2 separate regions of the Homo sapiens genome follow, and region 1 is linked to region 2. The links come from fine-mapping of genetic effects on gene expression. A gene starts in region 2. The other region holds a variant in brackets. All regions are shown on one strand. Distances are between the middles of the regions.

Region 1 (5,389 bases), 290 kb after region 2:
GGCTCATGGCATCCTGATGATTTTATGCATCTTGCAGCCTATTACGTAGGCCAAGCCAAGGTTTCCTAGTGTGCCGTGTGGCTGCCAGGTTCCATTTTTAGATGATCTCCAATACCCCCTGTCTAGAGAGAATTAGCCCCCTTTAGGCTCCGATTGTCTCAGCAGACATCATTTTACCAGCAAGTTAAAATGCATGCTGTGTACTGCCTCAGAAGGGGATGTGTTAGTTGCATTTGTCTAATGTCTCTGAAAGGGATGTGTTGGTTGGATTTGCCTGAATAGGATAAGGGGAGGAGAGAAACCATTATGTATGGACATCTTTTACATTTAACTTTGTGTTACAGGGAGAGCTCCCTTCAGTGAGCACACATACCTCACACTACTACAAGAGACCCTGGAAGAAGCCAGAAGTGTAAAATAGGGATCTACCAAACCTAACCCCCTGTATATTTTAACACTAAAGCAGTCATTGTCTGGGATAGATACCTGAGGTTCCTTGCCTCATGCCAGGGAAATTAAGGACATGGAAACACAAAAGAAGTGAGTTGAAGAGCAGAGGTTTAATAGGAGCAAGAAAGAGAAAAGAGAATAGCTTTTTTCCTTGCAGGGAGAGATGGGTGCCCCAGTGGGTCTTCCGTGCCCCTGGTAAAGTGCACAGGGTTGTACAGATTGGCTTGAGGAGGTAGTGCCTGATTTACATAGGGCCCAAAGATTGGTTGGACCAGGTGTGACGCTTACATAGTACTGCGAAGAAGCTTGTCACTCCACCCTAATCTTTTTATTATGCAAATGGGTTTTGTACTTGGCTGGCGCCATGTTGTCTGCTCCTTACCGTACACGTGGTTAGCAAAGAAAAGGGAACATGGAACCACCGTTTTGAACATGCCTAGTCCCCAGGTAGCCCCTTTCCTATTGGCACAACTGCTGGCATTTACCTGTGCAAGCTTCTAGCTTGCCTTTCCATGACTGCAGCTTGATTTTACAGACTGCTTTTTGTTAGAAAAGAAAATGATTTAGGAGCTGCTTTTCTTTAAAAGGAAAACCTTACCGAGGACTTCCTTATCCTCATAATCTGCCCAAATAATGCCTTGTTAACTCCTGTATCATTACCATTATTAATAATCTTCCATTAAAAATGAAAAATCAGACAAATGCAAACAGGACCTATGGTGACAATATTTTTCGACCACATCTCCATTCCCCACTCTACCTCCATTCACTCTCCAGCTTGCTGATGCTTACATAGTATTTACATTTTCTGGCTCAGTTCCTCCCCTTCCCTCCTCTCTTTTCTTTTCTTTCCCCCTCCTCTCCCCTCCCCTCTCCTCTCCTTTTTGACAGAGTCTCGCTCTGTCACCGGGCTGGAATGCAGTGGTGTGATCTCGGCTCACTGCAACCTCTGCCTCCCGGGTTCGAGCGATTCTTCTGTCTCAGCCTCCAGAGTAGCTGGTATTACAGGCACCACCACCACATCTGGATAATTTTTATACTTTTTTTTTTTAGTAGAGAAGGGGTTTCACCATATTGATCAGGCTGGTCTCGAACTCCTGACCTCATGTGATCCACCCAACTTGGCCTCCCAAAGTGTTGGGATTACAGGTGTGAGCCACCACGCCCGGCTGGCTCCGTTTCTTTTAAAATGTATGCAAAATGATCTCATGTGAAACAGAAAACTTTGGTGGCATGTCTAAATATCCATGCTTACTTAATCAGTATTACCTCTCTTAATTAACATCTTTGCTATAGAAACAATATTCTCTCACACTGCACAACTTTTCTGCTTATTTCTAAAACTTGACAGGAGGGACAAGAGAAGTTCTCCTTCATTCTAGTTTGGCTGTAGCTTCTGCAGCTTATCATTGCCAGAGGTTTGAAAAATATAGAACCTTTGGCACGTCCTCAGTCTTACTAAATTCAGTGTTCCCAACAGTCATTTCCGTTTCTAAAAAGATCCACAGGTAATCCTGATGCATAAAGCAAAGACTGTGTCTTCCTGGTTTCTGTAATGTAAATCAAGACAAGTT[G/A]TAATTTGGGGCTTACTGCTGTTAAAATGAAGAAAGAACATGCCCAAGAAATGAAGTTATTATGATTCATGGATATTGGGGTGCCTGGGTGGTTGAAAATGTTTACATAAATAGTGCTAGAGTTGTAGAATGTCAAAAAGAAGGCACAATCTGCAAGAGATAAACATCAATGCTTAATTTGCTAATTTTTTCTAATTGTGTCTTGGGGAGGAAGGAATGTAAGTTGTTAGGAAGAACGGATGGCAGAACTGGAGTGAGATTTGAAAAAAATGTTCTAATAATGAATAGAACGTTTTTTGTTGTTGTTTTTTTTTTCCACTGAGGCAGGCTTAAGATAGAGCCAAGCTGCTTCCATCATGTTGCTGAAAATTATAACATAAAAAATGTTTTAAGATTCTGAAAGTCAAACTAGTCTGTTTTTTGCTATTTTATCTTGGGTTTCTGGAGTCTATGACTATGAGAACATGGGCGAGACATTAAAAAGGAAGCTTATTTTCTATTGTTCTCCCGAATAAATCCTATTACTGTACACTATAATGTATACCATATGTTAAAGAATTCCAGTCAATGATTCTATTGCAGATTCCACACTGAGGGATTAAATTATATAATCACTAGTAAAAATGAAATTTGAAAATATTTAATAAACTATCATGTAAGCTGTTAATGTTAAATACAAGGGTTTATATACTTTAGCAACTAATTGAACATCTGATTCATGATTAGGAATGCACATATTGCTAAATATCAGGACTCTGAGACGATTAGATTCAGTTTAACAAAAATAATTTGATGGAATGAGATGATATGGAAGTAAATGGCATAACTAATAGAGCTAAGGTAATGAGCAAGTCTGGAGGAAACTGACAAGTCCTGTAGCCTCTTTCAGACATATGGCAATCCTATAAGTAAACTTACGATGTTGCCATTCTTAGAAGGTTTAGAAGTTCTGGACTCATTCACCCTGTCAATTAATCTTATGACTAAAATACTTATCCTGAGAACTTTTTTTGTATCTTGGAGCATCAAATTGAATTGAAAATACTCTGAACTTAAACTCCTCAGCTTATACTTTTAAAGGCTTGCCTTATTCAGATGTCTGACATCGTGGAATGGGGAAACATCATGGACTTCAATGTTCGACTTCAGAGAGTTTAAATTTTATTTTGGTCACTTATTACATTTCATGGGCCTGTACAAGTTATTTAACCTCAGACTCAAAATTATCTGCTATAAAGTAGTGTTAACAGCTCCTAACAGGATTGTAGAGACTAAATAAAATAATACTAATAGAGGACTACTCATTAAACAAATGCTCCTTTCCTCTATCTTTTCTTATGGTAGATTAGGAAAAGTAAATATCTTCATATGATTTGCAAAGTCAGTTTGCATCTCTCCGATAGAAGTGGTGAGTAATTGACGAGTCCTATTTTTAGGGCTTTCCCGAGAGAGAGAGAGAGAGAGAGAGAGAGAGAGAGAGAGAGAGAGAGAGAGAGAGAGAGAGACAGAGACAGAGAGAGAGTGTGTTAAAGTCCTTCCAGTAAGCATACATTACATGGTATCACTCAAGATCAATTTACAACATTAATAATAGCTGTATGTTCTGTCATCATGTATTAGTGCTCTGCAAAAGAAAACTGGACTGGAAAATTAGCAGGGTTAAAGAATAAAGTGAAGAATAAAGTGCCTTGGTTAATAATGCACAGAGGCCCTAGAAATGTAATCGCCCAATGGGTTCATTGCCTGCTGCCAGGACAGAGCCGATTTATCAAGACAGGGAAATTGTAATAGAGAAAGAGTTCAATTCATGCAGAGCCAGCTGAATAGGAGACTGGAGTTTTATTATTACTCAAATCAGTCTCCCTGAAAATTCGGAGACTGGGTTTTTTAAGGATAATTTGGTGGGTAGGGGGCCAGGGAATGGAGAGTGCTCACTGATCAGGTCAGAGATAAAAATCAAAGAGCCTTGAAGCTATTCTTGGCTGAGTCAGTTCTTGGGTGGGGGCCACAAGACCAGATGAGTCAGTTTATCCATCTGGGTGGTGCCAGCTGATCCATGGAGTGCAGGAGCTGAAAAATATCTCCAACACCAATCTGAGGTTTCACAATAATGATGTTATCCCTAGGAGCAACTGGGGAGAGTTCGAATCTTGTAGCCTCTAGCTGTATGACTCCTAAGCCTATTTTCTAATCTTGTGGCTAATTTGTTAGTCCCACAAAGGCAGCCTTGTCCCCAGGCAAGAAGGGGGTTTGTTTTAAGAAAGTGCCGTTATCATTTTTGTTTCAAAGGCAAACTATAAACTAAGTTCCTACCAAAGTTAGCTCAGCCTGTGCCCAGGAATAAACAAGGACACCTTGGAGGTTAGAAGCAAGATGGAGTCTGTTAGGTCAGATTTCTCATTGTCTTAATTTTTTCACTGTTATAATTTTTGTATAGGAGGTGTCTGGAACATTACCTGTCTGGTAACCACTCCCACTTTCATTGGCACAAATTTGTATCTTGAAAATATCTGTATTTCTAATAGAAAACCATTCACAATCACAGTGAGGTAAACCCAAGAGAGAAGAGAGAGAATAGACAGAATTCAATTTACTCAAAGAAAACTGAACTTCACCACAAAAGGATCTTTTCTCATTTGGGGGAATTATTTATTAACATTTCTATTATTAAACTCATTTTTAGGCTAATCCTATAAATTCACATATATTAAAGCATATACACATATTTATGTATCATTCCTTGGGGAATCATTAAGCTCTTCTGACATACTAAACAACTATGTAAAGATTAGCAAAAAGTCTCTTTTCTTTGCCATTACTGAAGAATGTGTTTTACCCACTGAAAAGTCTCTAGAATGTAGAATCAGGGTCTTGAGAATGTTTATGCCTTAAATTTCCTAATTTCAAGCCAGCAGAGGGCTCCCTACTGTAACATGATTCTGTATATGTATACAAAATTCTGTGAAAATTGTTGTTAAGGGACAAAAGCAGGATTCAATATATGTTATAGGCTTACGTATTGTCTATAACTATGTGTTAAATTAAGAAGTATAAAAAGAATGAAGCAAAGCCAAACCCACTTCTGATACTTGAGATAGAATGTGTTGCTTTTTCATCATGCAAAATTTAATCTTCCTCTGCTGTTCCAGTTTGAAAACTAAATATGCTTCAATTCTGTATCCTCAGTTCACATAGACACCTGCAGTCTGATTCTCTTAATACTCTATATTTTTGTCCATTCAAAGATTAAATAATGTATTGCTAATATGAGATTATCTAAGTCAGGCTCCTTAACCCAGTGATACATAGGCAAAGCTCAATGAAGAACAGCATTAGTTTTTTTTAGTACATGTGTCTTTGATTAT
Region 2 (5,389 bases):
TTGTCTGACTACAACTCTCCGTTCTTTCAATAGTGTGCAAGAAAAAGCATCAGTCATAGGATACTAGTTCAGACACTATCCCAGCAAAACTTACCAATGGTTTTAAATTGTTAAAACAATTTAAATAATTGTTTTATTACACAAATGATTTTTATAATCTTCCCAGTCATAACTTGAGCTTTGCTTACCAGTAGGACAAGAAAGTATGAAGCAAAGGCATTGCCACCGCTCAACTCCAACTACATAAGTTTCTAGATTTAAAAAAATTTTGTCAAATTTTTATCAGTGCTCTTAACCTAATTTTCTTCCTCTTTAGCTACATAAAGATTTCAGGTAATAATAGTTGACTCTAGAGTATTAGGGAACTGCTTGCAAATTTGCTCCAACCATATTCTTCTATTCTTCATATAGACTTTTCGTTTTCTTTCTCATTGCTGTCAAAAATTTTTAACCACCCTCATGTATGCACTATTGTAGCAAATATATTCCCTGCATTATATTTTACTCAGTGATTCACAAGGTCACATGTAGACTTTATGCACAGGGATACTATGTATGTGTGTGGCATGGATCGCCTATAACAAATTGGGCACTCCAACAATGCCAAAAAATATTAAGTAAGCCTTTATACCTGGAGATCCCCGTGATGAGTAGAAAATTAGCCAAGACTATTCCAATGACATTCTTGACGTGTTTTATTTTTGGTAAAAGCATGAAGATTTGGTGGATTAGAGAAAGAGTAGCACAATTTAAAACTGAAATTATAGGATAAGAGTAGTCCTTGGTTACCCATTTTCTAAAGACAGAGGATTTCAGAATTACTTTGTTTTTCACAATTGTTATTTCACAAATTTTGAAGCTTCTTCTCCTATGGAATATATGCTAGCCTATGGACGTATCCAGATTAAAATCTTACATTCTCTTTTAGGTAATTTCTGTTTTGTCAATAATTTTTCTTGGAGAAAAATGTACTAATACAGTGTTTTCTCCAATGATCCTCCAACTAAGTCTAACATTTTTGTGTAATATATGCTTTCTGTTTGAGGGATTTCCACCCCCCCCCACCCCCCACTGCCCCACCACCACTGTAAAAATCTGGTCAATGCAAGAGGACCTGGTTAGGTACCCCAACATTTTTAACATTAATTATTTCTGATTTATTTTCTAGAAAAGACCTTCAGTATTCTGCTTGCATTCATGTTTATTTGGTCATTTGCTTTACAATGGACTGGTCCTTGCTGACCTGTTTTTAAAAGAGTTGGTTATCTGCAATTTGAGCAACCAGTTGAAGTTGTTTTATAAAAGTTTTAAGCCTTCATTTTCTGCCAGTGAACACAATGCTGCTTGGTTTCTAAGTATAGAGCCATCTATGTAAAAATCGCCACTTTAAAATCACAAGAAAGAGACTGTTCAGCAAGTGGAGGAGATTATTGCAGCAGGAAGAAACTGAGGGGACCCTCCATGTGGCACCCACTGAAGAGTATTTGAATGTTTATCATATCATCAGTGTGGCCTAGGCTGTTGCCTAGCAGTTATCTAGAGACCTACTTCACGTTTTATTTTAATTTAATAAGGTAAATCGAAGACTTTTGTTTGCTTGCTTGCTTGTTTAGTTCACAGATTAGGAATAAATCTGGACTGGAACTTGTAACAATTAACTAGGGCATTTGAAAGTCCAAGCCAGCCTCTTTATGAATTACATTTTGAAAAGACAAGCTGCTATCTCATTGGTAACTTTCAGGAGACCACTCTTGGAATTAAATTTAGAAAACATTTATCAGTTATGTTGCCCAAAATCACAATGGACAGGGCACTTTCTGCATAGCTAATACACAAGCGGCATCCGCCTGCAAATCACAGAGCACCCCTACTATAGCATAACTAGGACAGGAGTCAGGGAGACGAACCGATTTAACATTTCATGGAGAATTCAAAGCTATGCTTCTCTAACTTTCCTCCCCATTTCTTCCCAGCTTCCCTTCCCCCGCACCACACACCCAGAAGCCACTCAATTTGCCAACCATGTCCAGTTTAACTTACTGCAGTGTGATGCAGGCGAAAGCTGAGCGCATCTCTGAAGCGAGAGCCACTGCTTTTCCGGAGAGGAACTGGGACTAGCCAGTTCTCAGGATCCTTTCCAATTCACACGCTCCCGGCACAGTAAGAAGGCTCCCACACAGCTCGGCTTCCCCAGAGGAGTGGAGCTTCAAGAACTCTGCTCACAGCATCCTCCTCCCCACTGCCACCCCCTTCCAGAACACCCGGCCCATTGGAACTAGTGTCTGAAAGATGGAAATCTACTTCCAGGCAGCAACACAGGCTGCCTGCAGTTCACCCGTCTCTGATCATTTGCAACTAAAAAACAGCGGAGGCTGAAAGACGTAGGTTTCCGGAGCCTGAAAGTCATCTTTGGCGTCCCCCTTCCCCACCTCTCACTCCTCCCACTTCATCCCCGCTCCTCTATCGCGTCCACCCCCAGTCCTCCAGACTCCCACTCAAGCTAGCTATCACAAATGATTATTTTATCATCCAAACCAGTAAGCAGCTGAAGGAAACAATTTGTCAGAGATGAAATACCTGTTGTCCATGACTAACGCTCTTCTTCAGTCTCTCTTAGTCCTTGATTTATGTCAAGACGCGTTGATATTGGAAGTCTGTGCAGTGTGTGTGTGTGTGTGTGTGTGTGTGTGTGTGTGTGTGTGTTGAGGAGGAGGCGATTTGCGCGGCTGCAAGCACCAGCCCTGCCTATCTCTGGCTGCCGCTTCTCCAGCTGCTATTGCTACTCTTGCTGATGGAGCTCAGGGGAAAATGAGACAGGGAGACAAGGCTATACAGCTGTTTAACTGCTGGTCCAGTTATAAGACAGGGGAGGAGACGGTGCAGGTGAGAGGCTGTTGAGACAGTGAGCTGGATTCACTGCAATTACTACCACTCACTATACATCTCAGGGAGGAAATATGATACCCGTCTCCCCTCTCCCTTCTACAACTGTAGTCCTTGGTGGGTCATTGTTCAGCAACCATCTGCCGAAGCCACTTCTACCAATTGTAGCAGCTGCAGACGCTCTTGCTGCATTCCGGCTTGGTAACCTCGGAGCAGGTGACTGGAGGATGGATGAAGTAGAAAGGCAGTTAAATATTGGGAGAAACTCTATGTATGTGTAACCAATCAGGGCACAGATAAAAATAACAATTTTGAGGCACGTGTGTAAAATAGTGTATTAGGGTAAGAAAAATGTAAGTAAGTCAATAATCAAGATTTTTGTGGACTGTGTACAAAACCAGACAGTTATTAAGCAGTGTGCTTACCAGCTTATACACGGGGTATCTTGACATAGAAGTCCCGTGGTTGCTCTTAACTTATCTATATAATATTCTCAATGATTTCAATGCATTAACATCTCTCTGTCAGCTACAGACTCTGGTAAAACCAACTTGATTCTGTCTTCTATTAACTTTCATTTGCTCTCCTTATTGGCTGCTCTCATTAATCTCCAACATATTCTCATAAAAAATATGACATTCGGCAGAACTTAGAAATGGAAGACGTTCTCAAATCCCCCAAAGAATAGAATACTTCTTAATTACTAGTAACATTTGCTCTAGTAATAGTCTGTCTTCACTTTCTTGTTCTGTAGATTGAGTAATCATGAACAACCCCTCCTAAATACACACACACACACACACATCACTTAATTGAATAGTACTTTTAATCCACTTTCAGCCTCCAGTTGTCTGAGCTAAAAATAAACTTAATTCCTTTTGATTTTATTTGTAATGCACGCCTTTAATTATTTCTGCCTCTGAGTACTTTTCATATTGGCCATATTTTTTCCCAGTTGTTAGGGCTTGTGTAATCAGGGTTAATCAGGGTTAAATTAAACAGAGGGGGAACACGGAAGAAAGAAAATATAAGAAAAGACCCAGAAGGAAGAAAATAACCCAAAAGGATTAAATAATACATCTTTCCCTGATGTGTTTATACTGCCTTTAGCTAAACAAAGACCAGTTAATGAGCAAAGCATTTATCAATTATCCAACAAATATCAATTTGCCAAAGCCAGCCTAACTTCAATTTTAACAGATTTTATCAGAGGCTAATATTTTGTTTTAAAAATCATATAATACCTTAAATGCGAATAGCATCCAGAATTTTTTAACGTCAAAATTCTAATTAAACATGATGCCAAATAGCTATTTTTCTCTTCATTTGTTGTCTGTCCATTAAATAATTATTGTATCACACAATTAATATTATTAACAGTCTGAAGAGTACCTTTTTTATACTTGTGTACACTGCAGTGTAAGGAAGTAGGCACAAGAAGTCTCTAGCACATAGAAATACATTTTGATACAAAAGGCCAACTTTATCCACAAATGGTATGATTTTAAACTTGCCCTGCTCAACAAATTCATCCCTTACTATAACTAGCAGGATCTTGCCATTTGTAGTTTAGCAGGGTTTTCTTTTTGATCTTTTTGGTTATTGTTTTTTGTTTTACCTTTACTCCCATTTTGAAATTAAATCATATTTAGGAAGAGCACTAACACTCTAAACATTATTGAGAGACATAATTTATTAGCTATCTTCATTATAAATAAGAAGGAGTCTAAACATCTGGTCTGGGTAGAGCTGGAAGAACTACAAGATGTTAAAATAATTGGTAATGAGTATTTAACATCCATCTTGTTAGTTTTTTTTTTTTTTTTTTTAACAGCTTATAGCATTACTAAGATTCACTTTAAGAAAAAACCACTCTCTTAAAACTACAAGGTTTGGTAATGGAGGAAGAAAATTTTCAGTTAAGGATTGGTGATTGAATCTTATTCCTGACTCATAACTCAAGATTTTCCATTTTGTGGTAAAACTTACAAATCACTCCCTTACAACACTGTGCCCATTTCTCCAAGATGCTTCTCTGCTCCCATCACTAGATTTTCAGAAACTTCATGGGAATCTGTTTATCATTCATCAATCTAAAAAATAAGAGAAAAATGAACTTGCTCTATACTCATTCCTCAACATAATCATCAATTTGTGAAAATATATAGAAACGAATCATATTAATTTTCATCTACATCTCCTTCATCATCAAAACAAGTATTCCCAAACTAAATTTTGTAATTTAATGATAGTCATTTACTGAAGAGAACCCAAAAGTTTGCAAACTGTACAACAGCAAAAGCAAGCCATGTTTGCTTAGTTCATTCATGCGTCTCTAGCATCTACCAAAGTGCTTAGAAAGTGGTATGTGCACAGTAAAATAACGTTTGAATACGTGAGTGAATGAATTAATCTGTGAGTGCAGGGCATTGGGAAGATAAGTGAGCTGGAAATAAGGGTGTTTGAATTCTTTTCGTCTTTTTTCTGCTGCTAAATAACTGGCACT

Which allele goes with the higher level. Alleles are on the strand shown, and positions count from the first base shown. SD is a standard deviation of normalised expression in the study named.
As copies of A replace G in region 1, the expression in iPS cells of the gene that starts at base 2,200 in region 2 goes down (small effect, 0.29 SD a copy in HipSci).

Evidence for each region. PIP is the estimated chance that this variant, and not a neighbour inherited with it, causes the effect. A credible set is the group of variants that fine-mapping cannot tell apart.
Region 1: its variant is the best candidate, but not a certain one, in a credible set for the expression of DGKB in iPS cells (HipSci, PIP 0.67).

The regions. Positions count from the first base shown.
Region 1 is chr7:15,194,728-15,200,116 of GRCh38, forward strand. It overlaps a transcript of AGMO not described here. Among named protein-coding and RNA genes, the nearest start is that of DGKB, 290 kb to the left of the region's middle. The variant G/A (reference allele first, on the strand shown) is at 2,025.
Region 2 is chr7:14,900,552-14,905,940 of GRCh38, forward strand. It overlaps DGKB (diacylglycerol kinase beta), which reads right to left and starts at 2,200. Exons shown (of 26, transcript NM_001350709.2): 1 at 2,041-2,200.